3 linked regions of the Homo sapiens genome follow. The protein of the gene in region 1 interacts with the protein of each later gene in a pairwise test. Each region holds a gene or a part of one and is shown on either strand. Other genes may lie near its edges.

Evidence for each region.
Region 2: the proteins of UBASH3B (region 1) and SLC25A48 interact in binary tests that used the Homo sapiens proteins (3 or more experiments, as listed by UniProt).
Region 3: the proteins of UBASH3B (region 1) and CCDC74B interact in binary tests that used the Homo sapiens proteins (3 or more experiments, as listed by UniProt).

Annotation. Positions count from the first base shown.
Region 1 is NC_000011.10:122,804,233-122,814,104, reverse strand, and holds part of UBASH3B (ubiquitin-associated and SH3 domain-containing protein B), read right to left. Parts: intron 7,696-9,872; coding exon 7,589-7,695; intron 6,039-7,588; coding exon 5,929-6,038; intron 4,357-5,928; coding exon 4,219-4,356; 3' UTR 1-4,218. UniProt on the Homo sapiens protein: Interferes with CBL-mediated down-regulation and degradation of receptor-type tyrosine kinases. Promotes accumulation of activated target receptors, such as T-cell receptors and EGFR, on the cell surface.
Region 2 is NC_000005.10:135,829,221-135,839,175, reverse strand, and holds the start of SLC25A48 (solute carrier family 25 member 48), read right to left. Parts: upstream 4,514-9,955; 5' UTR 4,329-4,513; coding exon 4,283-4,328; intron 4,135-4,282; exon of another isoform or gene 3,911-4,134; intron 1-3,910.
Region 3 is NC_000002.12:130,141,590-130,152,452, reverse strand, and holds the start of CCDC74B (coiled-coil domain-containing protein 74B), read left to right. Parts: upstream 1-7,340; 5' UTR 7,341-7,456; coding exon 7,457-7,706; coding exon of another isoform or gene 7,707-7,832; intron 7,833-7,978; exon of another isoform or gene 7,979-8,113; intron 8,114-9,139; coding exon 9,140-9,184; intron 9,185-9,387; exon of another isoform or gene 9,388-9,470; coding exon of another isoform or gene 9,471-10,269; coding exon 10,270-10,320; intron 10,321-10,863.

The sequences.
Region 1 (9,872 bases):
AGTACATATTTTCCATTATACACATCTATCCTGTACAGAGTCCATGATAGTTGAACAGCTGGAAAATTCCAATTTGTTGTGTAATGGCAGCTAAGTGTAAAGTATTTGCAAGAACTGATTGTATATTAAGTTCGACTAGTCATCACTATAATTTTAAACCTACATACACCAATCCTACTATTATTTGTACTTAAAAATGAAGTTATTTCATCTGCATTTACAATCTTTTTCCCTTTTCGCTTGAATTTTCATTATAGCTAGTCACTTTCCTAGGGAAATTCAATATGTTGAAGTATTAAAGAGAAGCAAATCCAATTTTAATTCTATGTTTAAAAATGAAAAGCTTCTGCTATCACCTAACAAAATATCCCCCATCACCTTTGTAAAGTGAACATTAACCTAAATAGATGTTAAATCGCTCTTTACCCCACCCTCCTCTGCCTGTCTCATCTCTCCCCGCAATGCAGCCTTTTAGACTAGTGCCTCTTCTTTCTCACACGTGTGCTGGATTGCAATTTAAATGCAAATAACCCTGCACCTCATTATCTAAGTTCGTGCAGACTCAGTAACAGTTGCCTGTGCTGAAGGCTGTGAAATCAAACGGAGGTTCATCTGTATTCTAACACATGGATTACTTAGAGTAATTTCAAAAGAGCAATTCATCACTGCTTTGAAATTAAACACTGGACTTGCAGAGTGCCTAGGTTACGGAGGAATGCCTTTCTTTTACCACATAGGGAAGCCTTTCCACAAAGGCAATGAGATAGGAACTTCTTTTACTGTAGCTGTTCAATTAGTTCCCAACAACACTAGGTAATTGAAATAAGAGACTTCATTTTAATACGAATACAGCTAGTTGAGTGGAAAAGACACACTTATGGTAATGTTAAGCACAATGACAAGACAATCTATATGCATTCCAAATACCACTAACAAGGAAATTATCAACAATGATTTACCAAACAGACATCACTCCAGAAGGCATATTTTTTATTTTTTATTTTTTGCAAAATCATCTTTTAAATATAAGGTTACTTTAAAATAATTCTTTGGTTAAAGTATAATTAAAATAAAAAGTAGAAACTCCTCCAAGCCTTTCACTACAGAGTGAAAAATACGCCCCTCTTTCAGCCATCAGATGGCCATTTAATCAGCCATTCAGATTCTATGAATCTAAATGTAATGGAAAACACTGTAATCTGAACTCCATACTGGGGTGAAGCAATAAGCTCCTAGCTACCAATGCAGTGATGGTGAAGAGAGCCTGGGAAAATGAAACCCCCAGCTTATGCATTAAAATGTGCCAATTACTCTGGTCCATGGAGGAACAGACGCGGTATTTTAAAATCACAGGAAACAAAGTTCTGTCTGTGAATAACACTGGGGCATTACCGGATTGATGTGGCACACTTGTAGAAGCAGGAAATGCTTTCAGGCTTTCAATCCCAGATTAAAACCTTTAGTTAATTTCATTTCACCTAGTTTATTTCAAATAACTTTCTACATTAAAACAAAATTCCTCTGTACAAGAAACCATTTGCTTCTTATCTGTCAATTCCTTCCTTGCCCTTCCTTCTCCTCTCCCCATACATCATTTGTTTTAATAAGCATCAGCTTCAGATCAAAAAGAACCAGCTGCAACTTCAGGTTATATATATTAGCCTATACTTTTTGGATGTATATGAAATTGAGTAATATAGTTGTCTCTTTCTTTTATTATACATAGATGCCACATGATTTACAAATAATTTCTCAGTTGCAGTGCAAGTTTAGTTTTTTAAATAGGTAAGTGTGCAAGGGGAACTTAATGTGAATTCAGATCTTTTGGGCCATTTTGACAAGCAATTTGAAATAATGAAATTGAAATGAAAGCAGAGAAATACAATCTTTCTTGTTTTCCACCTGAATTATTCGGAAAATTATTTCAGATCTCTATCTCCTTTTGCTTATATAGACCATTGCCTAAGGCAGTGTCCATATTGGACTAAGAACAATGGATTGTAGCCCAGTCAGACAGATTTATCAGTTCGTCATACAACTAAGATAACCTAGAAGATGGAGTGGATAACCTATTCCAGACTCTATTTCATACATTACAGATACTGCCCAGAACACACTGCTACAGTTTCAAGGTGAGGTGTTCAAGCATTATTCTGAGCACTCAACGCCCATGAAAATTTGTGGTGAATCTGTTAAAGATTATGGATCTGATTAAACAGTGGATTCACTTCATTACAAATACCAGAAGAATGAATGGTAGAGCCATTACATTACTTGTAATGTGACTTTTCTCTTAAGACCTTTATTGGGAATATTCCCTCCCAACATTTTATATTAACACATCATCACAGGGTTATTTCCATACCCAGAAGCTGGGTCAGTGTTTGCGCAACGCTAGAAGAAACCATGATTGATTTGTTTCTCAAAATGTAAAATACATGACATATTTTTCTAAGTGACCTAAAAAAAATACAACTATGGGCCAGGTGTGGTGGCTCACACCTGTAATCCTAGCACTTTGGGAGACAGGGGCAGGAGGATCGCTTGAGCCCAGGAGTTCAAGACCAGTCTAAGCATTATAGTGAGACCCTGTCTCTAAAAACAAAACAAAACAACTATAATCCTTTTGCTCATTAACATATATAGCCAGCATCCTTTCATGTCCTCTTCTTTCTAGGGGTTATCAAGTTGTAGTTTCAAACGCAAGCATAGATGTATTTTTATATACCTTACGTTTTATGCATCTGAGTTTTGAAACATAGTCAATGTTACTGCAACATGTAAAGATCCATTTTACACTAACTAATGTCTCTTTAAAGGGCTGGCATTTCACTTTGCATACATCTTCTACAGAGTGAACTATACCATAGGAGACCATCATCTGTGGCCATCAACAGTCAGATAGTCACACAATTAAACAGACATTGATAACTGATGATTTGGTTTGATTGTCATTTATTTCTTTTAAATAAACTCCCTCTAAATGCAGGAAGTAAGTATAATGAGAAACCACAGAATGTGGCTCTCCAAATTTCCTCAGTAGCCCTACCTATGTATTTTAAATTATCATAGAAAAACAAACAAAACGACAGCACAAGTAGCAGTGCAGCCATGACTGTCATCATTTATATTAGTTCCCTGACTTACTATACATCCCTGGTATAATTGATGCATTTGTGGATGTTCCATTATGGTTGACACGTACTGTAAGTGTACAACAACCTGACCCTTGGTATGGTTTGCAAACATGTCCATATTGCACAGAATGAACTTCTTGCTGCAAATAATATATCTAACATACATCCTTTCAAAATGTAACATCCTTAACTAGTTAACATAGTCTAGAGTCTAGGGGCAAAGACAAGCAAATATTGATGATTTAGAAATGCAGTAGCACGTTAGGCTACAACATGGTTAATTCCAAGTCACTTCATATTTTGCAAGTTCTTTGCTCCTATGATTGAATACTTCAAACATGTATCTTATCTTTCCTCCTGAGTATCCAAAAGTGCTTTGGAGAGCAAAAGTGCTTTGTCTCCCCATTTCACAGAAGCAAGGAGGGGGGATAGGGCTGTAGCAAGAAGGGCCAGCTGCTCTAGAGAAAATGTGGCAGTACCAGGGTAAATGTTAGCATCCTTAAGCGGGTATCTTCAGCCAGCAACACTGGTGTATGGGGGCTAGTGACGGTAGGATTTCATGTGTAACCTAAGAACAACTCTCTTCAGGGCATGTTTTCTAATAATCTTAAAAGGATTCCTCAGCTTGGCTCTACCTAACTGGAAAATGGAGATAAAAAAAAAAAAATTCCATCCCCAAGCTGTCCTTTCAATGCTCCCCCAGCTGGTCTGGGCACACTCCTTCCTCTTGCACCCCTTAGAGCGGGCCAGCAGCTCCCTCTGGGAGAAATGAGGCCCCTTAGCTGTGCATACCCAGAGGGAACGAAACATTCTCTTCTGTAGCAGGTGCCCCGATTTAGGAAGACAATTCTCCAAAGCCTTGTGAGCTAGGCAAGAGTCCAGAGAGAACACATTTTTTTCCTCTGAATCAAGTCTTTCTCTCATTTACACAGTCTCATCTTAAGAACTTTAAGTGTGAAAGGAAATATGCTAAATTATTCTGAGCTGTCCACTTAGAGTGTGGTGTGGATTTTCCCACTGTTTTTAAACACACAGAAAGACACACTCCAAAAGGCCTTTCCTTCTTGTTCACTGGTGTGGTTTATTCTTGAAGCAAGGTCTCTCTCCAGTTGAAGCCCCCAGTTGGTCCATGGGTAAGAGGAAGGATTGGTGGATCTGTCAGCTGCCATATTCCAGTTTCTCCTAATTCTTCACAGGAACAAAATCCCAGATATGGGATCTGAAGTAAGAGTCGTAAAGAAAGGGGATATTAGGAGATAGGTTTAATGCTTTAACTTTTACCTAAATACAAAGATATTCATGTGGCCCTAGAGAATTGCAGTCAGAAATGGATAGTGGCTTTGTAGAAATGCATTCCCTTCAAAAATCGATAAATAAAATAAAATGGGTAAAACTGGTAACTTAGAAGAGTATTTACATTGCAAGAGGATTCATCAGAAGGATCCATTAAATGGTGACCTCCCCTAAAGTAATTAAGTCATTGTTCATAGATTGCTGCTTAATTGGGTGGCAGAAAAAGAGGACCAAAATACATAAGGCTACAATGCCAGGAGTTAATTCCCAATTGCAAGTCCAGGTAAAAAGGCAGCTCAAGGCCGGGCACAGTGGCTCACGCCTGTAATCCCAGTACTTTGGGAGGCCGAGGCGGGCGGGTCACTTGAGGTCAAGAGTTCGAGACCAGCCTGGCCAACATGGCAAACCTCATCTATACTAAAAATACAAAAAATTAGCTGGGCGTGGTGGCATGTGCCTGTAATCCCAGCTACGTGGGAGGCTGAATCAGGAGAATCGCTTGAATCCAGGAGGCAGAGGTTAAAGTGAACCGAGATTACGCCACTGTGCTCTAGCCTGGGTGACAGAGCAAGGCTCTGTCTCAAAAAAAAAAGAAAAAAGAAAAGAAAAAGTCAGCTCAAACATTTCTGAAATTATACTTGGACCCAATGGAAAATATTTTTCAATTTGAAAAAATTTGTTTCACCCGTTTTTTTTTTCTCCTTACGAGTCTCTGCAACATTCAAAGCTGAAGCTGTGCTCTCCCTCACTTCAGTTGTCACAGCAATTTTAAAACTTATTTTTGTCTGTGTCCAGAGCTGCATTTACAAACAAGACAAAATTCTCTGTCTTCCAGCACTTACAAATGAGGACAGATGCATAAATAAACTTTTCAAAAATGTGAAAAAAGATTGCAATTGAGTTTGAACCAGGTTCTCTGGCGGCAGAGAAAGGAAGTATGTAATTTGCCTGAAGGGAAGTGTGTGGGAGGCAGCTGACCAGAAAACCTCTCCCACAGGCACAGAAAGGAAGACTCCAGATGTGTGGGTCAGCCTCATGGGTTTTCTGTCTTGCTGTCTTGTTCCTGGCTTTGCCTTTTAGCCTCCTCATTTGAAACTGCTGCATGCCTCGGCCTACCTTCAAGGACCTGTGTTTGAGTTAAGCTTTCAGATGCTGTCTTTTGGACTGACCTCTATTGATCCAACCCAAGTTCCCTCAGGGAAATTCAGAGAAGGTCCCTCAGGGAAATCCAGACAATTTGCTTATAATTCCTAGCTGCTTCCTACATTTTAGCTCTTAGAAGCTAGAACTAGCTCTCATACATTGTTTTTCTAACACAAGGCTTAATAAAGTGCCCTGCACAGAGTATCACTCAATACATCTTGGTTGAGTGAAGCAATAAATGAATATTCCCAGCTCAGCATAAACACATGCTTCAAAGAACTTGGTAATCAGCCAGTCACTGTACTGACTTCAAACTACTAGCCATCACGGACCCCAAAGTACGAGAATGAATTACCTTTCGGACCATTTGTACGAAGTCCTTGGAGTTCTGAGGTGACAGGCCCTGAAGTTGGCAGGTACACGCTTCAAGGGAAGATGCGTGGGCCACAATCAGGATGTTATTTCCTGGGGGAAAATGGCAAGGTATGGGAAGACTGTTTCTATAAAGACATGGAAACTTTGCAAATACTGGAAGCTAACTAAATGCTCTGCAGGGGAGCAAACACACTCAAGAAGACAATTTGCCTAAGCAATATTTTGAAAGTGCTTTGTTACTGATAAGGCAGCTTAATCTTTTTAAAGAAAACATTTATCTTAAAATAGTTACAGATTTATGGGGCCGGGTGTGGTGGCTCATCCCTGTAATCCCAGTAATTTTGAGAGAACGAGGAGGGAGGACCACTTGAGTTCAGGAGTTTGAGACCAGCCTGAGCAACATAGTGAGACCCTGTCCCTATAGAAAATTTTTAAAAAATTAGCTGGGTGTGGTGGCCTGTGCCTGCAGTCCCAGCTACTTGGGAGGCTGATGTGGGAGGATCACTTGAGCCCAGGAGATTGAGGCTATAGTGAGCCATGATTGCATCACTGCGCTCCAGCCTGAGTGTCAGGAGCAAGACCCTGTCTCAAAAATAATAATAATAATTATGGATTTATGGGAGGGTTACATACATATACATACATACCGACAAGATCCCATGAACCCTTCATCCCATCCCCCTCCAATGGTAACATCTTACATAACTATGGTACAGTATCAAACCCAGGAAATGGACGCTGGTACAATACACACAGCGTATTCAGATTTTAGCAGGTGTGCAAGAAGTCGTTTGTGCATATGTGACGATACAGTTCATGCAATTCTATCATATGTGTAGCTTTTTGTAACACCATGACAATCAAGATACAGGACTGTTGTGTGTCCATAGGGCTGTCTGTGCAACTCCTTCTAACATAGTTTTAAGTGTTCCCACTATAGAACTATGAGCACTTGAGACTTCCTGGTTGATAGAACATGTTGTGTACCTTTATGGTAGTGAGTGGCTAATCAATGAAAACTGGAAGGTGGGAATCATTCATAATACTGTTGCTCATGGCTGCCTACTGTTTGAATATAAGTATTTTAACTTAAAAAAAGAGATGAAGGGAATGTCCATACTTTTTTTGCAATATGCCTTTTTCACTAAAAAATTGATAGTGAACAGTCTTACATATTAAATATTTGAGCTCAGTGTTTAGAAAATTCAATAGCAAACACACTTGAGCCTTATACAACACTGCTCTTGGTTGGTGATAGCAGGGAAGGTGTATGTGTTTGTGTAGGTGTGCTGTGTGTAGGTGTGCATGCCGCTGCATCAATTATAGGCAAAACAGTGGCATGCTAGAGCTTTTGGAAATTATAAGAGGGAATCTCTTTCACAGGGTGCAAGAAGAATAGCTATAACGCAGAATTTAAGTTATTAAGAATAGTAACTAAGTCTGGTATAAACCCCTGGAATATCTACCATTTTAGGAACTCAGAGAATATTACAAATTTAATGTAAAAGTATCTGGAAGAAAATCTGGAAATACATTTCTTTGGTTAGCCAAAGCAAGTTGAAACATCTTGAATAACCTATTAACCATTATAGAGAAATAATCACGTATGTACAGATGGAGTTCAGAATAATACCACTTACCTTTACTTTTACATTCACTTATTATTTCTTTTGTTACTTGGAAACTTCTACTGATATAAGTATCATAGGATTCTGAAACAACTAATTTGCTGATTGGAATGTGAGGTCTGTAATAGAAAAATGAACAAAGGAAATGAAAACATTTTGATCTTGAGACAAAGGAAGATATCACTCTAAACTTTTATTTCAAGGCATTTCTAAAGATCCCGTAGATCTGTTTGTTTATCCATTTCCCTAGAAAGGAGAAAGGTATAGGGAACAGCATTTCTACTATATGAACATGGAGTGGAAATGTACAGAAATAACAGCTATGTGTATGGCGTTACAGTGACCAGGTGAAAAATGAGACATTCAGTGCATGTTTCACTCTCGGGATAACAAATAAGCCATTGATGGATGGTCCTAGTCACATAGCTAATACAAAACAAAGCAGAGATGGAACCCTCAACCTATTTAGATCAGCAGGGATTTCCCAGACCTCTCTTCAAGAGCAGCAAGGATGGGTTTTAAACGCAGATATTAGGTCCATCTGATTCTTTGCGAGTTTATCAAATTTCACCAGTCTTTTCCTTTAATTCTCTCTTATTTTGAACACAGACCATACACTTGGCACAAGGAGAAGTGCAAAGCATAAAGATGAAGACCACTCAATTTCTGTGTTGGAAAAGTTCTCTGCCTGTGGTTGGGGTGAAGAGGTTATTGATGTAAATGATAATTACTATACAATCTACAAAGGCATGTGATACTGTGTGTCCCTCACCGGCCTGGGGGCCTGGCTGTGCCCCCCACCCAAATCTCATCCTGAATTTCCACATGTTGTGGGAGGGACTTGGTGGGAGATAATTGAATCATGGGGGCAGGTCTTTCCTGTGCTGTTCTCGTGATAGTGAATAAGTCTCACAAGATCTGATGGTTTATTTTTTAAAATTTTTATTTATTTATTTTTTGTTATTTGTTTTTTGTTGTTGTTGTTGTTTTATTTTTGAGATTGAGTTTCACTCTTGTTGCCCAGGCCGGAGTGCAATGGCTCGATCTCGACTCACTGCAACCTCCGCCTCCTGAGTTCAAGCAATTCTCCTGCCTCAGCCTCCCAAGTAGCTGGGATTAGAGGCATGCGCCACCACACCCGGCTAATTTTGTATTGTTTTTAGTAGAGACAGGGTTTCACCATGTTGGCCAGGCTGGTCTTGAACTCCTGACCTCAGATGATCCGCCCACCTCGGCCTCCCAAAGTGCTGGGATTACAGGCATGAGCCACTGCACCCAGCCAATCTGACCGTTTTAAAAAGGGGAGTTCCCTGCACAAGCTCTCTCTTTGCCTGCTGCAATCCATGTTAAGACGTGACTTGCTTCTCCTTGCCTTCCGCCATGATTGTGAGGCTTCCCCAGTCACATGTAACTATAAGTCCAGTTAAACCTCTTTCTTTTGTAAATTGCCCAGTCCCAGGTATGTCTTTGTCAGCAGCGTGAAAACGAACTAACACAGCATGGAAGAGGATGATCAAAGCTAGGCTTCCTGTCCCGGTGCCCCTGCATGTCTTCAAACCCAGTCACCAATGCCCTTGGGGCCTGCCTCTGCCTGCCTCCACCCCCGCTTAACTATGTAGAGTTTCTATGTTGTTTCTGGTCCACAAGATGTTTATCTTGTTTTCTGGGTACAACTATGTCATTTCAATTTTCTTATTTTGTCAATTTTCATATTTTGTCTTTCACTGCTGGGTGTTTAGTGCCTGGTGGAGGTGTGGTAAGTTCTCAAAATGAATTCACATGGCCTCTTGATCAGAAGTAGGCTATTACCACTACTATTAGCACTGAAAATATTTACTGAGGTTCCCATATGTGTCAGGCTCTGTGCGAGTGTCCTGCTTGCATTTCTTCGGTCTAATCCTCCCAGCAATGCTTTCATAAATGCTGTTTATGGATGACAAAACAGAAGCTCAGAAAGGCTGCAGCTGACTTCCCTATGCTAACACCGTTAGCAACTCTTAGAATCTGGATTTGAATCTGAGTCTGGAGTCTGGCCTGTGAGCCGATCCTCTACACACAGCTTCTGACAGTGCCCTTGCTAAGCCTGGCCTTCTGTGCACACCGGCTTACTGTCCAGGGGAAGGATGCCGTTCCACTTGAAGGAAACTTGCCCATATCCTGCATTCTCTCAGCATGCCTGTTTCTCCTAGGAAACAGCCTTCTGAGTCTCACAACACCCTGGGGGATAGGTAGAGACCTGAATCACCACTTGTTGGGGCTGTACCTCATTGTTCTGGAGCAAGCTTTCTCCTCTTTT
Region 2 (9,955 bases), on another chromosome or scaffold:
TCTGCATGCCCCACTGCAAAGGAAAGTGCTCTGAGAGGTCACCATCAGGGAAGAAACTGAGGGAGAAAGGAAATGGGGTTTCTTTTTTAAAAAATAATTTTATAAAAAATTATAATACCCATGAGGCTGGCAATGAGTGTCTGTGGCTTTTCCAGGTGCATGGTGCAAGCTGTAAGTGGATCTACCATTCTGTGGTCTGGAGGATGGTGGCTCTCTTCTCACAGCTCTACTAGGCATTGCCCCAGTGGGGACTCTGTGTGGGACTCCCACCCTACATTTCCCATCCACACTGCCCTAGCAGAGGTTCTCCATGAGGGCCCCACCCCTGCAGCCAACTGCAGCAAACTTCTGCCTGGACATCCAGGCATTTTCATACATCCTCTGAAATCTAGATGGCAGTTCCCAAAGCTCAATTCTTGACTTCTATCCACCCACAGGCTCAACACCATGTGTAAGCTGCCAAGGCTTGGGGCTTGCACCCTCTGAAGCCACAGCCCAAGCTGTACCTTGGCCCCTTTCAGCCATGGCTGAAGTGGCTAGGACACAGAGCACCAAGTCCCTAGGCTGCACAGAGCAGAGGTCCCTGGGCCCAGCCCAGGAAACCATTTTTTCCTCCTAGGCCTCTGAGTCTGTGATGGGAGGGGCTGTCACCAAGGTCTCTGACATGCCCTGCAGATATTTACCCCACTGTCTTGGTGATAAACATTTATCTCCTTGTTACTTATGCAAATTTCTGCAGCAGGCTTGAATTTCTCCCCAGATAATGGGTTTTTATTTTCTATTGCATTGTTAGGCTGCAAATTTTCCAAGCTTTTATGATCTGCTTCGCTTTTAAACATAAGTTCCAATTCCAAACCATATCTTTGTGAATACATAAAACTGAATGCTTTTAGCAGCACCAAAATCACATCTTGAATGCTTTGCTGCTTAGTAATTTCTTCCACCAGATACCCTAAAACATCTCTCTCAAGTTCAAAGTTCCACAGATCTCTAAGGCAGGGGCAAAATGTCACCAGTCTCTTTGCTAAAACATAGCAAGAGTCACCTTTATTCCAGTTCCCAACAAGTTCCTCATCTCCATCTGAGACCATCACAACCAGGACTTCATTGTCCATATCACTACCAGCATTTTGGTCAAAACCATTCAACAAGTCTCTAGGAAGCTCCAAACTTTTCCACATTTTTCTGTCTTCTTCTGAGCCCTTCAAACTGTTCCAACATCTGCCTGTTACCCAGTTCCAAAGTTGCTTCCACATTTTCAGGTATCTTTACTGTAACATCCCACTCTACTGGTACCAACTTACTGTATTAGTCCATTCTTATTCTGCTAATAAAGACATTACTGAGACTGGGTAATTTACAAATGAAAGAGATTTAATTGACTCACTGTTCTACATGGCTGGGGAGGCCACACAATAATGGTAGAATGTTAAAGAGGAGCAAAGTCACATCTTACATGGTGCCAGGGAAAAAGAGAGCTTGTGTAGGGAACTCCCCTTTATAAAGCCATTGGATCTCATGAGACTTATTCACTACCATGAGAACAGCATGGGAAAGCCTGTACCCATGATTCAATTACCTCCCACAGGGGTCCCTCCCATGACATGTGGAATTATGGGAGCTACAATTCAAGATGAGATTTGGGTGGGGAAACAGCCAAACCGTATCAGCCTTGTTGCAGCAGTTAGTGACTGAAATTGAAAGGGAAACTGTTCTTCAAAGACAAATTCCCGAGAACACTGAGGAGGAAGGAAATATCTGTGTTAGTAGAGGTGATTTAACCAGGTAGCTAAGGGCTCCTGGAATATTAGATATTTATAGGGACAAAGAAACCAGCTAATCCCAGAACAATGATTCCCTGGGTCCAGAACCACCTGTCCCCTCTTATCCCCTCCTACCTACTAAACTGGGCAGAGGCAGAGAGGTGATGGCAGTAATTAACCCTTCCCAGTAGTGGGGGGAGGTGCGCTGGTCCTCAGGCTCCATGGCTTCCCCCATAGTGAGTGCACACATCCTTCAGCTCAGGGCAGGCTTAGATCCAGCCTTGGGCCAACATCTCCCTGCCACTTATTAGCCCACCCATCTGAAAGCAGGGGATTTGAGATTTAAAAAAATGGGATTATAAGGTCAGTGATTTCCAGACCTTGGCACTTCACAAACCAGTAAAATCTCAAACAAAATGTGTGTGTGTGTGGGGGGGGGGGGTGGGGGGGGGGATAATATCAAAAAAAGGGCAAAATTTTGTTATGCAAGGTTGTTCAGAAAGAGTTAAGATGAAATTAAGATGGCAGATTCTGGTGCCAGGCAGCCTGGGTTGGAATCCTGGTGCCAATGCTAGATGCATGGTCTTAGGCAAGTCAGTGAATTTCTCTGTATCTCAGTTTCCTCATCTGTAAAATAAGGATGCAACGGTACCTACCTCTTTGGGGTTGTTATAATAATTAAAGAACTATACATAAACTGACACAAGAGATCACATATTGCAAGATTCAATTGACATAACATATACAGGAAAGGCAAATTTACAGAAAGGAGATTAAGGAGAGGGAACAGCATTCAACTTCAAATGAGGGATCTTACTGGGGGATGAAAATGTTCTAAAACAAATTTATGGTGATGGTTGCACCTCTTTGTAAAATTACTAAAAGACATTGAATTGTACATTTGAAATGGGTGAATTTTATAATACATAAAATAAACCTTGATAAAATTGTTTTAAAAGAATACATATAGCACTTAAACTATACCTGGCACCTAGTAAGTATTCAAGTGTAGTAAACACTTACCATCATTTCATGGAAGCCAAAAAAAAAAAAAGCCATGTTATTAGTTTGGTGCAAAAGTAATTGCGATTTTTGCCATTACTTTCAATAACATCACCAAAGTAAGGACCAGAATAAAGCACAAAAATCCCCTACTTGCTGTGAGTCGGGGAGGGTTCACATGTTATCACGTTTGGGGATGGGGAGGGGTATCAGAGTCTTGGAACTACTCTGACTCAGCCCTACCTTCCAGGGCATTTTTCAAACCAAGCCATTTGCATCCCTACCGAAGGTGGTCTGCTTATTTAAGGGGCAGCCCACGGAAGTGTCTCCTCTCTCTGCCTGCCCCGCTGAATGGTGGAATAATTGTCCAGTCAAAAAGGACCTGGATATGCCCAGCGGGCCTCAGGCTGCAGCCCCCTAACTGGGAAAGTTAGGAGAGGCGGGTCTCAGCCCCACCCAAGGGCATCTGTGCCAACAGACTTACTCAAGGTGAAAGGAGCCACCTCTGCTCAGGAAGGTGTGAAGCAGGGCCCTGCAGCCACCGGTCTCGGGAGAGAGGTGGTCTCCTGCTAGGTAGGAGGGGAGGAGTTGGGATCCAATCTGGTTTGTTGTTCTTTTCATCTTATTTTTTCACCCCTTTGGTGAGGGGCTACATTTGCCAACATCCCTTTTAGGATAACCCTTTTAGATGGGTCCAAAGAAAGACTTTTTTTTTTTTTTTTTTTTTTTTTTACAATTAGCAAAGTCCCTCAAACTTCCCCCTTTCCTAATAGCTGAGAAAAGAGGGATAGACCAATTGGAAAGAAAAATGGAGAAGCAAGGAAATGAATGCAACTCTCGCCCAGGCAACCCATCCCAGGCCCAGTAAAAGAGTGGCTTCGGGAGCTGTGGCGAAGGGATCAGCAGACCCAACAGTGCCCGGAGAAGGGGCCTTGGAGGTAGGCGATGGCTGACGGTTGGCGGCGGCTGAAGGCAATAAGTGCTCCTCGCAGCCTGGCAATGGGCACCTGCAGCCGGCGCTCCGCTCCCTGCTGTGAGAGCTCTGCTCCCTCCAGTCGGGACGCCCCGTTGGGCCGGCCTAATCTCGAAGCCTGGCTCCCACCACCCTGCGCCCCGGGATCAGCAGCCAAGCGCTACCCTCATACATAAGTTCCCGCGAGCCACGTCCGCAATTCAGGTGTGCACCAGGTCACTGAAGGGTGTGTGCGCCGCCAGGAGCCTCCATTGGCTGTGGGCTTTGACGAGCTGTTTAATCATTACCTCATCAAGTCCCACGGATCCTAACTTAATGAGCAAATCAGAAGCTCAGCCCGAAACGCTGTGAAGCTCTCAGAATTTAGCCCTGGCAACTGCAAGACCACCAGGGGGATCTCGGGGCCGGGCACTCCCCAAAGCAGGCTGCGCGCACAACGGGGAGCGGGATGGCAGCGCACAGAGGCAAAGTTTCCTCAGAGCATAGAGGCAAACTCCGCCAGGCTCGCTCTCTCTGACCGGGGGTCCCCGGTAAGCACACTCACCTCCGATCCAGCCCGCCGCAAAGTCTTCCAGCTGGAAGCTTCCCATGGCCGGCGCTCGGTCTCGCCCTCCCGGAGCCGGGGCAGTGCCCACTTAGAGTCAGTGGGGCATGGCCCGCGGGCGCGAGCGCGCCGCAAGACCGAAGTCGGAGTCTCGAGCACGCCGCAGGTCCTACTCCAAACCCAGTCCCCCAGTCACCGGCTGCGCGGGCTGCCGCGCTCACCTCTCCAAGTGCCGGAGGGCGGCTGACATCACGCCCCCAGTGGACCTTAAAGGCACAGCACTCTGGGTGGATAAGGGTGCGCTCCGCGCGGCTCATCCCAGACACAAAGAGGCAAGGGTCATCAAGTGAAATTCTCTTAGTCCTCCCTTCTCCGGGTTATCCTCTTCCTTGCCAACTTCAGAGCCTCAGCGCCTTTGAACTGAAAGTGCCAGCCGCCCATCCAGAGACGGCAATGCGCGTATCTCCCTGTACTGTGCTGTGCTGACAATGCTGATTCCAATCAGCTGTGGACTCTCTCCCATCCCAACTCTGGGCAGTGATGCCTTTTTGTTCATCTCAGCCATGTCCCACTCAGTACCCCGTGCCTAGAGCAGGCACCTGGTGGTTCAGGGTCATGTCTAACTTTCAGCTACAGCTCTCTAGGGGCCCAGCTCCCTGCCTGGCCCTGGCTCACCCTACACTGTCCGCCCTGGGCCAACAGAAGGCAGAGGTGGTGCTCTGTACCTCAAACTCCCTCTCTGTAGGCAGACCCTACATTCAGCCAGGCCCCAGGCCAGGGGTCCGTGCTCACTGGAGAAGTGGCCTGCTGTGCGGAGAGGCTTTTGATTACAATGAGAGTGTCTTTCCTCCCTTCCTAAGAAGACTCGAAGCCCCCCAGCGTTCTGCTAGTTTCCAGCAGGGACTCAGCTGTGGGTCTCAGCCAAGACACCCCAAGGTTGACAAGAATGGTGAAGGGTATGGTCAGGAGGAAGGGGCCTCTGCTGGGCCTGCTCTTGTCCCACTGGGCATATTCATGTCACGTCATCCAGGTTAATATGAAGCGACAGCCAGCCAGACCTCCTTCTTCCAAAGCAAGACAGAGCCTGACCACCGAAGCTTGATCCTACAAAGGCCTGTCCACTGAGGAGTGGGGACTTGGAGGTGAAGGGACCTTCCTGCAGCATCACTCCCTCCCCTGCCCCGGCACACAGAGAGTGGACCTGTATCGGGAGAGGACAGCCCGGGATGGAGTCGCCGGCCTGGCTAGGGAAGTATTGCAAAGTTCCAGGGAGGAGTGGAAGCATCACACCCCATCCCGGCACCTCAACTTCCTGCTGCTTATGGTGACCCACTCAGTCTTGAGGCTTCAGAGTTGCCATCAGCATCAACCCCAAGCTGTGCCCTGTCATGCCCGGGATATATGCCTAGGGCTGCTATGAGAAATGCAGGTCTCTGAAGAGTGGCCTTTTACTGAGTTCACCATTGGAATGCATCCACAAGTGGAAAGCCTGACAATTCTCAAAACCCACTCCTCTGGAAGACCACCTAAGGGGTGCCAGGCAGTTTGTCATCCCCTCAGTCCTGTGTCAGCACCAATTGAGGAGGTCTTACGTTGGCAGGCAGTGTCCCTGGCAGCCCAGGATGGCCTCCCAGGCCCAGAAAGCTGCTGCTTGAACTACTAACGAGCTGGAGCAGAGCAGGAGTGGGTTGCTTTCCAAAATGAATTACTGTGCTCCATTCCCATATGCATGCCACAAACCTGCCCATGGGGCGCATCACCCAGGGAAGTGAGGGGAGGACCCTAGGTTTACCAGCAACCATGGCCAGGCCTGGAGAATCCCAGACCACAGGGCTATGAGCCCAGGCAGAATGCTGGCTCTGTGGCCAGGATCCAGGCCATCCCTTCTTCCTGGCCTTCGCACTTCAGAGCACCATTTGCAGTGTGCTGCCATTCACATTTGCATTCTACACTCGGGAGAGGGCAGGGCAGCTACTGGCCATTACAGAGAGAAAGAAACTCCACAGAGATCCACTCCCTGCATGACTAGGGCCAGAAAGCAACCCCATTTTCTTTCTCCCTCAGTTCCTTCCCCAATGATGACCTCTCAGAGCACTTTCCTCAGTAGCAGGACATGCAGATGGGCTATGCTGATAGCATTTGTTAACTAGTGGCCCACTCCCCATTTCTTATTTACCCTTTCAGGCCACAGCAATTTCCTGAGCATCAGTCTGTGCTAGTGCCTTGCTTTGGGGAAAGTCTCTGTTTGAGAGGAGACAATCCATCTGAGATGCTACACAGAGGTGGCTGTAAGAGCACTGGAGAGGGAGTCCATCGTTCTACAGGAAGCAATCAGGGAAGGCTCTCCAAACTTGGAGTCTCCTGGCTGCACCTTTAGTCTACACAGCCCCACAGCTCCCACCTCCCCAACCACTCTCTCAGGCAAGCCAACAATCCCCTCCCCATGTCCACCTGCCACACTCGGGCAGCAAAGGCCTGGGTCAGCTGTCCATGCCTGACCTGCTGCAGTGAAGGCGCTGCCCATGCCGCCTGCTCCCCTCTGCTTCCAGATTCCTGCCCTCACCCAGCTTTCCTCCTGCTTCTCCAGCTCTTCTCATCTTCTTCCCTGGTGCCATGGCCCCTTCTCATGCTTAGGTGTGAATTCCTCAGGGCCCCATCTGGACCCTCACCCACCCGTACCTCCCATCTCTCAGCGTATAACCCCCACACCTTGCTTCAGAGTCCAGACATCCCTCTACTCAACACCTCCACCTGGGTGGCTCGGGTCATCTTAGCGCATCCCTCGATGAACTCTCTCTTCCTCCGCCAGTGCCTCTTCAACTTAGAGAAACACACCTCCACCCAGTGGCCACCCAAAACAGAACCTTGGATGCCATCCTCCATTTCTCTCTCCCAAGGTCTTATCCCACCAGCCGCAAAGTCCTGAGTGTCCATCCCCTCAATGACACCCAGCCCTCATTGCTGTCTCCGAATGTGGCTCAGCCCAGCCCTGTGCCACTGCCCTGCCTGGATCACAGTGGACACGGGTTCCTGGGTCCCTCTGCCCCTGTCCTACTGCCCCAGTGAGCTTCTGAAACTTTGAATCTGCTCAGTTTAGTGAACTTTGATGACTTTCTGTGATCTTGAGCATAAATTCCAATTCCCCAGTGTGTTGTGTGTAGCTCAGTAGGACTGGGTCTGGCTGCTTTTCCACTTTGCACCTCAATGTCTCACATTCTGTGCATGTGTGTGACTGCGCACATGCTATTCCCTTGTGGGGAACACCCTCTCCCTCCTCCCCTGGCTAATCCCTGCCCCCTTCTTCTTTAAGACTCAGTTCAGCTGTCACCTCCTGACAGGCCTTTCTTGAAGGCCTTCCTCATCACCCTATGCCACATGGTATCTTCTAGATCTCATCTGTGTTTCCTGAATATTCTGAGCATATCTGTATCTCTGCTGTCAGACTCAGTGGTTGATTGTCTTCCCATCCAGACTGTGAGCCCACTGAGAAGAGGGTACTGCCTCATTCTGCACTGGACCTGCAGAGCCTGGCGCAGGCCTGATGGGCAGTCAGTCACTGCTTAGTCCGCTGGGCCTTAAATGAGGAGACATGGGGAAAAGTCTGAAGGTCCTGCTGGTGGCTGGCAGACAAGGAGGGTGTCTGGATACAAGACAGAGCTGAAGAGGTGGTCACATCATTCCCAGGTGTGAGGACTCCCCCTGGCCTTTCCTGGAGCATCACAGAAGCCCGGCTTCTTTCAGGCCCTCAAAGGTACCAGCCACATTTCCCCCACAGAGCTTTTGCACTGATCACTCCCTCCACCTGCAGCTCCCTCTCCCTGCCCTCCTCATAGCCGACTCCTACCTCCTTCAGATCTATACCAAAGCATCTTCTGCATGAGGAGGCCTCCCCAGGCCCCTCACAGGAGGTCACGACCTGGTTGCCCTCTCTCAAGGCACCCCTGCTTCTTTTTCCAACTCTCACCATGCCGCTCAGTCCTTGTGCAATGCTTGGTTGCTCCAGGAAGATAGATAGGACCCGTCTGACCTATCTGCCACCGTGACATTTTCGGGCTCTGCCACAGAGCAGGCAGACAGCAATTACTCAGGACCGAGTTCAAAGGATTAATGAAACCGGACCACGGGCTTGTGCTGTCTTTCTTCTTTGAGTGTTTGCCCCAGCTGCATCATTCCTGCACTGGCCTCAGACAACGGGAGCTCTGAGCTCCCTCCTTGACTCTGATGGGAAGGAAAAGGAGCACACGATTTTCGAGCTTCTCATTGGGAGCAGGATTTCTTCCTTTGTTGATGGCACTTTGGGAAAGTATGTGCAGAGCATGTGCAGACTGAATCTGGCCCATCACCTGTTCAGCTTGAGGCTGGCAGTCAAGAAGCAGAGGTAAGTGGCTGTGAAGTGAGGGGGTGAAGCAGCTGGCGGGAAAGCTGGGCTGCCTGGGCTCTGGTCCTAGTGCTGCTGCTGCCTCTCTGGGCATCTTGGGAAAGTCCAGGCCTTAATTCTTCCTCTATTTTTTGGAAGGTAAGGACGATCTCCTCTTAGGTGGTGTCTGCAGAAGTCTGAAATTCTTGGCCACGGGGATATCAGCTGCGGAGGTCTCATCAAGATGCGCCAGGAGAGGGCGCTGCTGCGCAGCGCTTGAGGCTCTCGGGCGGAAAAGACAAGCGTGGCTGCTCATTCTGGATAGTTTCCTGGCCCGGTTTGCCTGGCACTGGCTGGCAGACAGCCACACTCAGTATATGTGTGGGCCGTGGAGGAGATGCTGGCCCAGGAGGCTCAGAGGGGAGTCTGAGGTGCCAGAGCAAACCTCGGAGAAGCTTGATGAGAACCCATCTAAGGTGTTTGAGTACTGTGTGCTTGGATGGGAGGCGACACCCCAATCTCTGTACCTGTGTAGATCTATCGAAGCCTTGAATGTCCCAGGCTTTCTTCCACCTCAGGGCTCCGAGCTGGCCCAGTGCTGCATGCTCCGTTTACACCATCTTGTTGAATTCTCTGACGCAAGTTCTCCTTGGGTAGGTGAGAAGAATGAGGTCCAGAGAGGTCAAGCAGTTTCTCTAAAGCCACACAGCAGTCAGTGGAGGATGATGAAGTCACACCTGCTGTTTGACTCCAGGGTCCATGCTATTAAAAAAAGTGCTGCCTCCTAGCCAAGACTCGGGAAGTAGAAGTGACTTTCCCAAAGACCCTTGCCCCCACCCCCACCCCTCTGCATAAATGCCCTAACTTTTCTGCCTCAGTTTCTCCACTATCAGTGTGATGGTACTAACACTGTCCAACTGTGCCATATTCATAGGACTCCTGCAACAGTTTAATCAGGGGGAAAACATCCCTTCCCCAATACCATCCCAGTGCCCTGGGCTGCCCTCTATCCTTTCTTTCCTGACAAGGTCCTGTGGGTCCACAGAAGTCTGAAATTCTGGGCCGCGGCGATATCAGCTTGAAAATCATATGTGCTTCTTTCCATCAGAGTCAACCTGCGGGTTGAGGCTGGCTCTGCGGACATCTGAGAATAGGAAATGCTGCTGTCCGCCTGACTGAAGGCCAGGCAGGTCAGTGGACCAGGCAGCCCAGGTTGGAGAGGTTTGGAATCAAGGGGTTTCTGTAGGAGTGTAGGAGGAGACCCTGCTGCGTGCTGCTGTCAAGGTCCCATCTGAAAGCCTGGCTGAGCACCTGCT
Region 3 (10,863 bases), on another chromosome or scaffold:
CCTCGGGCTTCTGGAGCGGGGTTCCTGCAGCCGCAGAGGCATCTGGAGGAAACGCAACCAAGAAAGGAAGGCAGGTGGGCCCCAGCAAAGGAGTAGCTGCCAGGGCTCAACAGCTACGCTCTGTGACAGCGCAGAGCTCAGCGGCGGCCTTTCCCTCCCTCCGCCAAGGACTCACGGCCAAGCCAGCTCTCGGGGCCTTTTTTCCACTGCCCATTTGGCTACTCTGCTGCACCAAGCTTGGGAGCCAGCCTGCCAACAGCCACCTGGGCCTGGCCTCCCCACTGGCTGGCCTTGAGGTTGGCAGAGTGGGTTGTGGCGCTTCCTCTCTCTGTGTGGGACCAGGACAGTGGCTTAAGTCTCCACTCCAGGAAAGAATCAAAGTTTCTAGAGTTGTGAGAAAACCAGAGAGTGGCTGTCCTGATTCTTCACTGTGAGGGGCGTTCTTCATGTTCTCCCAGCTGTTCCAAGACTGGGCCGTAGAATTCCATGTTTCAGGAGCCTAAGACCCTCCCAGAGCCCAGGGGCTTCACCGCAGACCCCAAGCCATTGAGCACATCACCCAAAGCAGTGGCCAACATCGCGGACCCCTGTGCCTTGTCACAGATGGGTGCTGGTCCTCAGGCGTTGGGGACACTGCTGGGTCGATGGGGTCGGATTCTGCCAGTTTCTGCTCTGCAGCCAAAGATGGTCAGAAGCATTGTCACTTCAGTAACATCAAGTGCTCAAAGACATGGCAACCGTTCAGTGGTACTTAAGTATTCAAAATATACAACTACAGATTCTCTGACAGAAACCAGCACGGGGTCTTCACCTTCATTCACCCCACAGGCGACATGCGAGGGAGAACAGCATCTCAGTGGTGATTTCCAAACCAAGCCTTTGTTTTCGGTGTGGGGTTTTGGGGGTTTGCTTTAATGTTTTTGAAATTGTAAATGTTGGGCTTTGTATTTTGATGTAAACTGAGCATAATGGCATTTTAGGGCCTGTGACCAAAAATGAAGCTTGTAACGACCATGGATCTGAATAAACATGTCCTTGCTTCTGAGTCTTCTGGCACCTGGGCTCAGTCTCTAGGAGGTTCACCTGTACAGAGTCCCTGAGCACACGGGGGCTGCAGAAACAACTGTTGGGCACCCTGTCGGCCCCTCCCGCTAGTGTCCACAGGCCTGGACCTCTGGCTTCCTATGCTTTCCTCTCTCAGAGGCACAGTAGACTTTGCCCTGCCTTTACAAAAGATTCAAAAAGTTAGGCATGGCGGTTCACATGTGTGGTCCCAGCTACTTGGGATGCTGAGTTTGGAGGATCATCAGGGTCCAGGAGGTCAAGGCTGTAGTGAGCCTTCATCACGCCACTATACTCCAGCCTGGGTGACAGAGTGAGACCCTGTTCTCAAAGAAAAGCTGACCACCGGGAACATGTGCTGCCAAGTCTATGGCTTCCAGAAGCTCTGAGGATTGCGGGAGTTGCTGGGGGCTGAACTGTCTGGCCAGGAGCGGAGGGCAGACAAAAATGCATTGAGAACCAAGAACAGCAAAGCTGAGTGAGGGGTCAGGGTCTTGGTGGCTGGGACCTGGACAGCGATGGCCACAAAGCCAGCTGGTGCTCAGTGGCTTCTCCCTGGGGAGCGAGGGCAGCAGTGGGCAGCTGGGTTCCAGCCACTTCCAGGTGGGGGGTAGGGACCTCGCCAATAAAATGGGATTTAAATTTTGCCAAGAACTCTCACTGTAGAGAAAATGGGACTGCTGGGATGAGAGCAGAAGCAAAATGCAGTTGGGGGGGCCCGGCCAGGAGGCACTTGTGAGGGACTTCCGGGGAAGGACGAGTTGGAGCAACTCAGGGGAAGCAGTTCTGTCTGGGGCACAAGGAGGAGGGAGGCCAGGCTGGAGGCAGGAGCTCCTGCAGATTCTTGTCTCCACCCCTGGATGCTTCCAGAGTGGTTTGCCCTAACTGCCACTGCCACCGCCTCCTCAGCTCCTAGGATGCCCTTGACTTTTTGCCATTGGGCCACACTCCCCTGCTAACAGGCCAAATCCGATGCTTTTCTGACCACGTGGCCCAGAGACTCTGGCAGCGCAGCTTCAGCCTGTCCTGACACCACCCCTGCCCCCGCACCTCCGCATCGTCCTCCTTGCCCCGAGACAATCCCGTTCCCTGGATCCCATTCGTGGCCCACTCCCTTCCATGATCTACCGCTAGGATATACCAGCGCCCCCGTGATCCAAGGTAAGTCAGATTCTGATCATCTTGTGCAAGCAACTCACAAGCAGAGGCCCTGTGCAGTCGGGAGAAATCTATACCTTTCCCCTTGGACATCCAAGAGCAAGTTAGATCCCCTAAAGGCCAGCTCTCACCAATAACCCTGACATTTCCAATATAAATGAGAGAGAACTCTCTGTTTTGAGACAAGGTCTTGCTATATTGCCCAGGCTGGAGTGCACTGCACCATGACAGCTCACTGCAGCCTCTTAACTCCTGGGCTTAAGCAATCCTTCCGCCTCAGCATCCCAAGTAGCCAGGACTACAGGCATGCGCCACCGCACCCTGCTAATTTTTAAATTTCTTTGTAGAGACGGGGTCTCACTGTGTTGCCAGGCTGGTCTTGAACTCCTAGGCTCAAGTGATCCGACCGCCTCCGCATCCTGAAGTGCTAGGGTTACAGGTGTGAGCCACCACACTGGAGAGCGGACTCTTATGTAGCCTTCACTGTAAAAATTAAGCTAGCTTCCCTTGACTCCCAAAACCAGAATTCCTAGCATAATTTTCTCAAGTCACAAGGTGCGAAAATATATCAAATTATTTCCCAGTCAAGAATTCCTACTTTTGGCCAGGCGCAGTGGCTCATGCCTGTAATCCCAGCACTTTAGGAGGCTGAGGCAGGAAGATCACTTGACGTCAGGAGTTTGAGACCAGCCTGGCCAACATGCTGAAATCCCATCTCTACTGAAAATACAAAAATTAGCTAGTGTGGTGGCGCATGCCTCTAATCTCAGTTACTTGGGAGGCTGAGGCAAGAAGATCGCTTGAACCTGGGATGTAGAGGTTGCAGTAAGCCGAGATCGTACCACTGTACTCCAGCCTGGGTGACAAGAGACTCCTTCTCAAAAAATAAATAAATAAAAAAAGTGATAAATTGGCAGCTGGCGCCAGGGACAGGCCATTTCCTGATGGGCCACACCTATTTCACTAAAGTGTTAATTGAATGCAGATTCCAGGGAGAATCAACTTCCCAGGCATGTGCATTAAGAGACAAAGTGGTGGAGTATGACCTTCGGGGGGCACCCCACCCAAAAACCTCAGATGGGCATGCATACAGTTTCCTAAACACACTGCATGTGTTTAGGAACTCCCAAGGGTAAGGAGGGTACTGTACATGTGGGCAGCCCACCCTAAGGGAAGGATCATGGGAAAGGGGCCAGTCTAGAAAGTCCTAGGATCAAGGTTAAACACCACACTTGACTTTCATGTGCCCACTTAGGTCTCTTCCAAGCGTACTTTCCTTTCTTTCCTGTTCTAAAGCCTTTTAAAATACACTTCCACTCCTGCTCTGAAACTTGCTTCGGTCTCTTTTTCTGCCTTATGCCCCTCAGTCGAATTCCTTCTTCTGAGGAGCCAAGAATTGTGGTTGCTGAAGACCCATCCGGATTCACTGCCAGTGACTTGGACACCTTCCACTGCTAACACTATTAACTCGGACACCTTCCACTGCTAACACAATAACACTGGGTTATTGTGTTTATTTGGAGAGTGCGTATGGTTTAAGGAGATGTGTATGGGTGCCAGGTTGACAAGGGGTGGACTTGTGATGGTTAATTCTATATGTCAGCTTGTCTGGGCCACCGGATGCACTCATATCTGGTTACACATTATTTCCTGGCAGGTCTGTAAGGGTGTTTTCAGAAGAAAGTGGCATTTAAATTGGTGGTGCAAGCAGCCATGCATGCATTTCTGGAGTAGCTTCCCTATAGCTTGCAGGAACCAGAGCGGGCAATAAGAGCCCCATCCTCCAAATACTGGGGATCTGTGCTCTGATTGATGATGGCTGCTGTTGATTGTGAAAATGCAGACAAAGAGGCAGGCAGCCACTGCTGCAATCTCCACTGCTATGTTTGCAACGTCCCTCCTCAACCCTCACTGCCTCCCTGGGTACACACCTTCCAGGAGGTTTTTATGGATCAGCACCTCCTCCTGCCTTCATTTTTCTTTTCTCCTTCTTGGGAACCAGATGTTTAGGACTAGGACATTCAAAAGCAACCATATACCAGGCACAGTGGCTCATACCTGTAATTTCAACACTTCTGGAGGCTGAGGGAGGAAGATTGCCTCAGCCCAGGGGTTTGAGACCAATCTGGGCAACATAGCAAGACAAAAAAAAAAAAAAAAATTAGCCAGGCGTGGTGTGTGCCTGTAATCCCAGTTACTAGGGAAGCTGAGGCAGGAGGATGGCTTGAGCCCAGGAGTTCCAGGCTGCAAGTGAGCTATAATCGCGCCACTGCACTCCTGCCTGGATGAATTTCTCTCCACTCAGGATATCCTCCCTCCCAGCAATAATATTGCTACCATTCATTCCAGCTATCCATAAACCATAATTACTAAATACATGTTGCCATAATTTTTTTGAACAACCTGTCATCTATTAAAAATAATAATAAAGATTATATTTTATTTTACTTTATTCCTTCTCTAATGCACTTCCCTTTTTTTAGATCCAAATTTCCTATATCTTTTTCCTTCTTTTTTTGAAACAGGGTCTCTCTGTGTTGCCCAAGCTGGAGTGCAGTGGTGCAATCACGGCTCGCTGCATCTCAGCCTTCTCAGTAGCTGGGACTGCAGGTGTGCACCACCATGCAGGCAAACTTTTTAGTTTTTTGTGGAGTCAGGGTCTGGCTATATTGCCCAGGCTGGTCTCTAACTCTTGGGCTCAAGAGATGCTCCTGCTTTGGCCTCTCAAAGTGCTGGGATTACAGGCATCAGCCATGCACCTGAGTTTTCATTTCTGTTGTGTTTTTGACTTCTTACATTTTCTTTTAGTTTTTTGAGATGGAGTCTCACTCTGTTGCTCGGGATGGAGTGCAGTGGCAGGATCTCAGCTTGCTGGAAACTTCACCTCCTGGGTTCAAGCAATTCTTTGGCCTCGGCCTCCTGAGTAGCTGGGATTACAGACATGCACCACCATGCCTGCCTTTCTTTTTTCTTTTTTTTTTTTTGAGATGGAGTCTTGTTCTGTCGCCCAGGCTGGAGTGCAGTGGCATGATCTTGGCTCACTGCAAGCTCCGCCTCCCGGGTTCACGCCATTCTTCTACCTCAGCTTCCCGAGTAGCTGGGACCACAGGCGCCCACCACCATGCCTGGCTAATTTTTTGTATTTTAGTAGAGATGGGGTTTTACCGTGTTAGCCAGGATGGTCTCGATCTCCTGACCTCATGATCCGCCCGCCTCGGCCTCCCAATAATTTTTGTATTTTTAGTAGAGATGGGTTTTCACCATGTTGCCCAGGCTGGTCTTGAACTCCTGACCTCAAGTGATTCACCCACCTCGGCCTCCCAAAGTGTTGGGATTAGCGGTGTAAGCCACTGTGCCTGGCCAACTTCTCACATTTTCTTTTCTTTTCTTCTTCTTTTTTTTTTTTTTGAGATGGAGTCTTACTCTGTTGCCCAGGCTTGAGGGCAGTGGCATGATCTCGGCTCACTGCAACCTCCACCTCCTGGATTCAAGCAATCCTCCCACCTTAGCTTCCCAAGTAGCTGGAATTACAGGTGCATGCCACCACACTAGCTAATTTTTGTATTTTTTAGTAGAGATGGGGTATCACCATGTTGGCCAGGCTGGTCTTGAGCTCCTGACCTCAAATGATCTGCCCAACTCAGCCTCCCAAAGTGCTGGGATTACAGACATGAGCCACCCTGCCTGGCCTTCACATTTTCTTTAGATTATTTCTTAGAACGTCTACCTCTCTGTTCCCATTATCAGTCTGTAATCTCATGTTGTCCACTTTTTCCATTAGAGCCCTTAGCATATTAATCATAGTCGTATTCCATTTCTTGGTCTGATAATTCCAACATCTCTGCCATATTTAAGTGTGGCTCTGATGCTTGCTGTGTCTTCGAACTGTGTTGTTTTTTATTATGCCTTGCAAGTTTTTGTTGAGGGCTGGTCATGCTCAACCAGTAAATGGACTTTCTGTGTGAAGTTTTATGTTGGTCTGGTTAGGGGTTGTGCCATGTGTGCTGTTTGTTAACTGGAGGTGTCAGAGGCTTAAACCTCCTCTAGTGTCTTAGTTTTTGTCTCCCTGTTGTCTTTACGGTTTCCTAGAGATTTCTCGAATAAGCTCTGAGATGAGCAGTTCTTTCACTTGTATCCCCTGTTATTATACAGGAGCCCCGCTGATGTGGCAGTAAGATGTGGGGAAGGAGAGCCAGAGCAGGCTGGGGTTAGCTATGTTCCCTTCCTCCAGGTTTGTTGGTGTCTGGCAAAATTATGATTGGCCTGGCTGTGATTTTTTTTTTTTTTGAGGGCAGGCCTTGTAAAAAAAAAAAAGACTTTTTATTTTTATTATTTTTAAATTTATTTATTTATTTATTATTTTTTTTTTTTTTGAGACAGAATCCCACCCTGTCGCCCAGGCTGGAGTGCAATGGCGCGATCTTGGCTCACTGCAACCTCCACCTCCTGGGTTCAAGTGATTCTCCTGCCTCAGCCTCCGGAGTAGCTGGGATTACAGGTGTGAACCACTGCGCCCGGCCTCTTATTTTTAGGCAGCATCTCACTCTGTCACTTAGGCTGGAGTTCAGTGGTGCCATCATAGCTCACTGCAGCCTCGACCTCCGGGGTTCCAGCAATCCTCCCACCTCAGCCTCCCGAGCAGTTGGGACTACAGGCGCAAGCCACCATGCCCGGGTTTTTTTTCTTTTAATTTTTATAGAGACAGGGGCTCACTTTCCATCCAGGCTGGAAAGGATGCCTTTTATTATTATTATTATTATTATTATTATTATTATTATTATTTTAGATAGAGTCTCTGTCGCCCAGGTTGGAGTGCAGCGGTGCGATCTCGGCTCACTGCAACCTCTGCCTCCCGGTTCAAGCTATTCTCCTGCCTTAGCCTCCGGAGTAGCTGGGATTACTGGCTCCCGCCACTACGCCCGGCTAAATTTTGTATTTTTAGTAGAGTCGGGGTTTCGCCATGTTGGTCAGGCTGGTCAGGAACTCCTGACCTCAAGTGATCCGTCCGCCTCGGCCTCCCAAAGTTCGGGGATTACAGGCGTGAGCCCCGGCGCCCAGCCCTGGATGCCTTGTAAATCACTACTCACCCAGGAAGAGCCAGCGACAGGCCCCGCCCCCGCCAAACGCCTGGCGCCCTCCGTCGCCCGGTTTCCATGGTGACGGGGCGCCAGGCTAGGGCGGCCTGGCCACTGAGCCGGGGTGCAGTGGCAGCGGGAGAGTACCTGGCGATGGCGATATGAGCGGTGCGGGGGTGGCGGCTGGGACGCGGCCCCCCAGCTCGCCGACCCCGGGCTCTCGGCGCCGGCGCCAGCGCCCCTCTGTGGGCGTCCAGTCCTTGAGGCCGCAGAGCCCGCAGCTCAGGCAGAGCGACCCGCAGAAACGGAACCTGGACCTGGAGAAGAGCCTACAGTTCCTGCAGCAGCAGCACTCGGAGATGCTGGCCAAGCTCCATGAGGAGATCGAGCATCTGAAGCGGGAAAACAAGGGTGAGCCGGCGCGGGGCCCTAGGCCGGCCCTGCCTCCCCAGGCACACTCAACACTGCCGCTCCCGCAGCACAGAAACACAGCCATCAACTCCAGCACACGCCTGGGCTCAGGGGGAACACAGGACGGTAAGCCCGCCCTGCCACGCTGAGCTGTCCCCTCCTCCCAGAGGGAGACCCGCGTGGCCCCCGGGCAGTGCCGAACCTGTCTGCCTGTCTCCTAGGGCAGCAGCATTTCAGATGCTGACTCCGCCAGTCCTCTCCTCTCCAAGCAGGGTCAGACACACCTCTGTTAAAAACTTTATAGAGGGGCCCGGGCGCGGCGGCTCACGCCTGTAATTCCAGCACTTTGGGAGACCGAGACGGGCGGATCGCGAGGTCAGGAGATCGAGACCATCCTGGCTAACACGGTGAAACCCCGTCTCTACTAAAAATACAAAAAGTTAGCTGGGTGTGGTGGTGGGCGTCTGTAGTCCCAGCTACTCGGGAGGCTGAGGCAGGAGAATGGCGTGAACCCGGGAGGCGGAGCTTGCAGTGAGCCGAGATCTTGCCACTGCACTCCAGCCTCGGTGACAGAGCGAGACTCCGTCTCAAAAAAAACAAAAACAAACAAACAAAAACTTTATGCAGGGAAACGTGCCCAAGTGCGAGTGCGCAGCTCAGTGAATTTCTTCCAGCTAAACACATCGGATCAGGAGCAGGCATTCCCCCGCCCCCCACCCCGTCCCCGCTTCGCCTGTGCCCATGCTGTCCTCCGGCGGGGCCTTCCCAACTGCACCCTTAGCTGCTCCTCACCCCCACGCCCCCCTTTCTCCCTCCCTCCTCCCCCACCCCTCCTGCCCCGAGCAGGAGGAGGGCCCGCCAGGATGTGGGATGTGGCTCCGCTCCTCGCTCTTGCTTCAGGAGGGCTCCAGCAAGGGCACCAGTGCCCGCGGCCTCCTCTCCCGCCCCGTTCCCTGCTGCTGCCTTACCTGAGTGCCGAGTATCCCATCACCAGGCGTCTGTTTTGTCAGGACCCCGCTTCCCCATGTCTTCTTGAGCCTCAGGACGCCCCGTTCCTCATATCTTCTTGAGCCTCCCCCCAGTCCCTGATGCCCACGGGATCATGACACCGCCATAGCCAGGGATTCCAGAGTTCACCTCTGTACCCCTAAAGCCCAGGTTCTGCCTGGCAGTGTGGACGCCCTCCAGTCATCTCAGATGGATGAGGCTGATATGCCAGGTGGGCTCTGCCTAGGGAACAGGCAGGGGCCACTCCTGGCCTGACACCCACGACAAAGGCATGGTGGAGAGCGGGATCCATGGGGCAGGGCCCAATCAGCCAGTGGGGGGGCAGGACTTTCGGGCTCAGCAGCCAGGAGAGGACAGGCCAGGCTTCTTCTCTCAGAATGGCTGTGGTTTCACAAGTGCTGAGGAGAGCGTGTGCTTGCTTTCAGATCTCCGTTACAAGCTCATAATGAATCAGACATCACAGAAGAAAGGTGAGAACTGGGCCCTTCAGTTCCTGATGGGATGCTCTTGCCACCCAGGGGAGCCCCTCCAGACTGTCCTTGCCCACCTGGCTGCACTGGCCCCTGTATGCCAACCCAGTGGGGACAGGTTCTGGGGGACCTGGACAGATGCCGCTACCTCTAGCCGTGGCTGGATGATGTTACGCAGCCAAGCACAGCACGTGCTGCTCTCAGGAAGCCCAGGGCCTGAGGTCATTGCAGTGGGGAGGTGGGCACAGGGTGCTCCCCAGACCTCCCTCCTCCAAGTAGAGCTGAAATGGGAAGGAACCCCTGGGACAGCCCCTGCCCTGCTAGATCTTTGCCTCAGATTGCTGCTGTGGCCAGGCCCAGGATCTCCAGCCCTATGGCTCTGAGTCCTGACATGCTGGGGGCCCAGGGGCTCTGGACACACTCCATCCAGGGATCCCTTCCTGCCATCTGGGCAGCAACCATGGGGACAAAGGGAGGAAGCAGAGTCCTGTTTCCTTGCCACTTGTCCAAGGCACTTCCCCATCCTGACAGCGGCCCCCACCCAGCCCAGGATTCTGGGTTGTGGTCTCGAGCTCACTTCCCGTTATCTTTGGGGCTGGGGCTGACATCAGGAGGACATCTGACTGGTGGATGGAGCCAGCCTGGGAACATCGTAGCTGGGGCAGTGCCTAGGGCTCTCCCTTCCCAGAGAGACATGGAGAATGGGGTTGAGGGAGGGCCCTTCCCTAGCCGCTGTGGCAACTCCAGTGAGCTGTTCTGGGCAAAGTGTGGCCCAAGTCGGCAGCCCCAGCCCTGCAGTGCTGGGGACGCTGACAGGACACGGGAAGAGGCCATGCTCTCCCTCGGGACCTGCTGTTCCATGTGTCCCAAGCCCTCCTGCTTTCCAGATGGCCCCTCAGGAAACCACCTTTCCAGGGCCTCTGCTCCCTTGGGCGCTCGCTGGGTCTGCATCAACGGAGTGTGGGTAGAGCCGGGAGGACCCAGCCCTGCCAGGCTGAAGGAGGGCTCCTCACGGACACACAGGCCAGGAGGCAAGCATGGGCGTCTTGCGGGCGGTAGCGCCGACACTGTGCGCTCTCCTGCAGACAGCCTCTCCACGTCAAGCTTCCAGTCTGTCAAGTCCATCTCTAATTCAGGTGAGCAGGCTGGCGTCCATGTGCTCACAGGGGTGAGTGCCCCACGGGGACCCCAGCCTGGGTGGCCTCTAGGGGTGCTGACCAGGTACCCTCTGCTGGGCCAAGCTCCAGGATTTGGGGATGAAGGTGCAGCTGAAAAGAGCCCTGCAAGCTGAAGCCACCGGGAGGGGATTAAGGGGGGGTGGGCAGGACCAGGGACCAGTCACAGGGCAGTAAGGCCTCACAGCAGGCACCCCAGGGTGGGGCAGCAAGCAGGCAGGAGGGGCCTCCCCGGGTGGCCGCCTAGGGAGGACGTACCCTGGCTGCCCAGCAGCAGCCCTGCTTGGCCGTGTCCCCGCCACAAGCAGGCAGGACACAGGAGGGATGGCACTGCCCACGGAGCCCTGGGCTCATGGCACCTTCTGCAGAGTGAACTGGGAGCAGAGAGCCTCTTTTCCCCACTCTGTGAGGCCGGGCATTTTCCTCAGCCCAGCCCTAACCCTCACCATTCCTGTGATGGGCCCAGGTGCTGGACGGGCCTTGTCCTTGCCGAGGAAACCCATG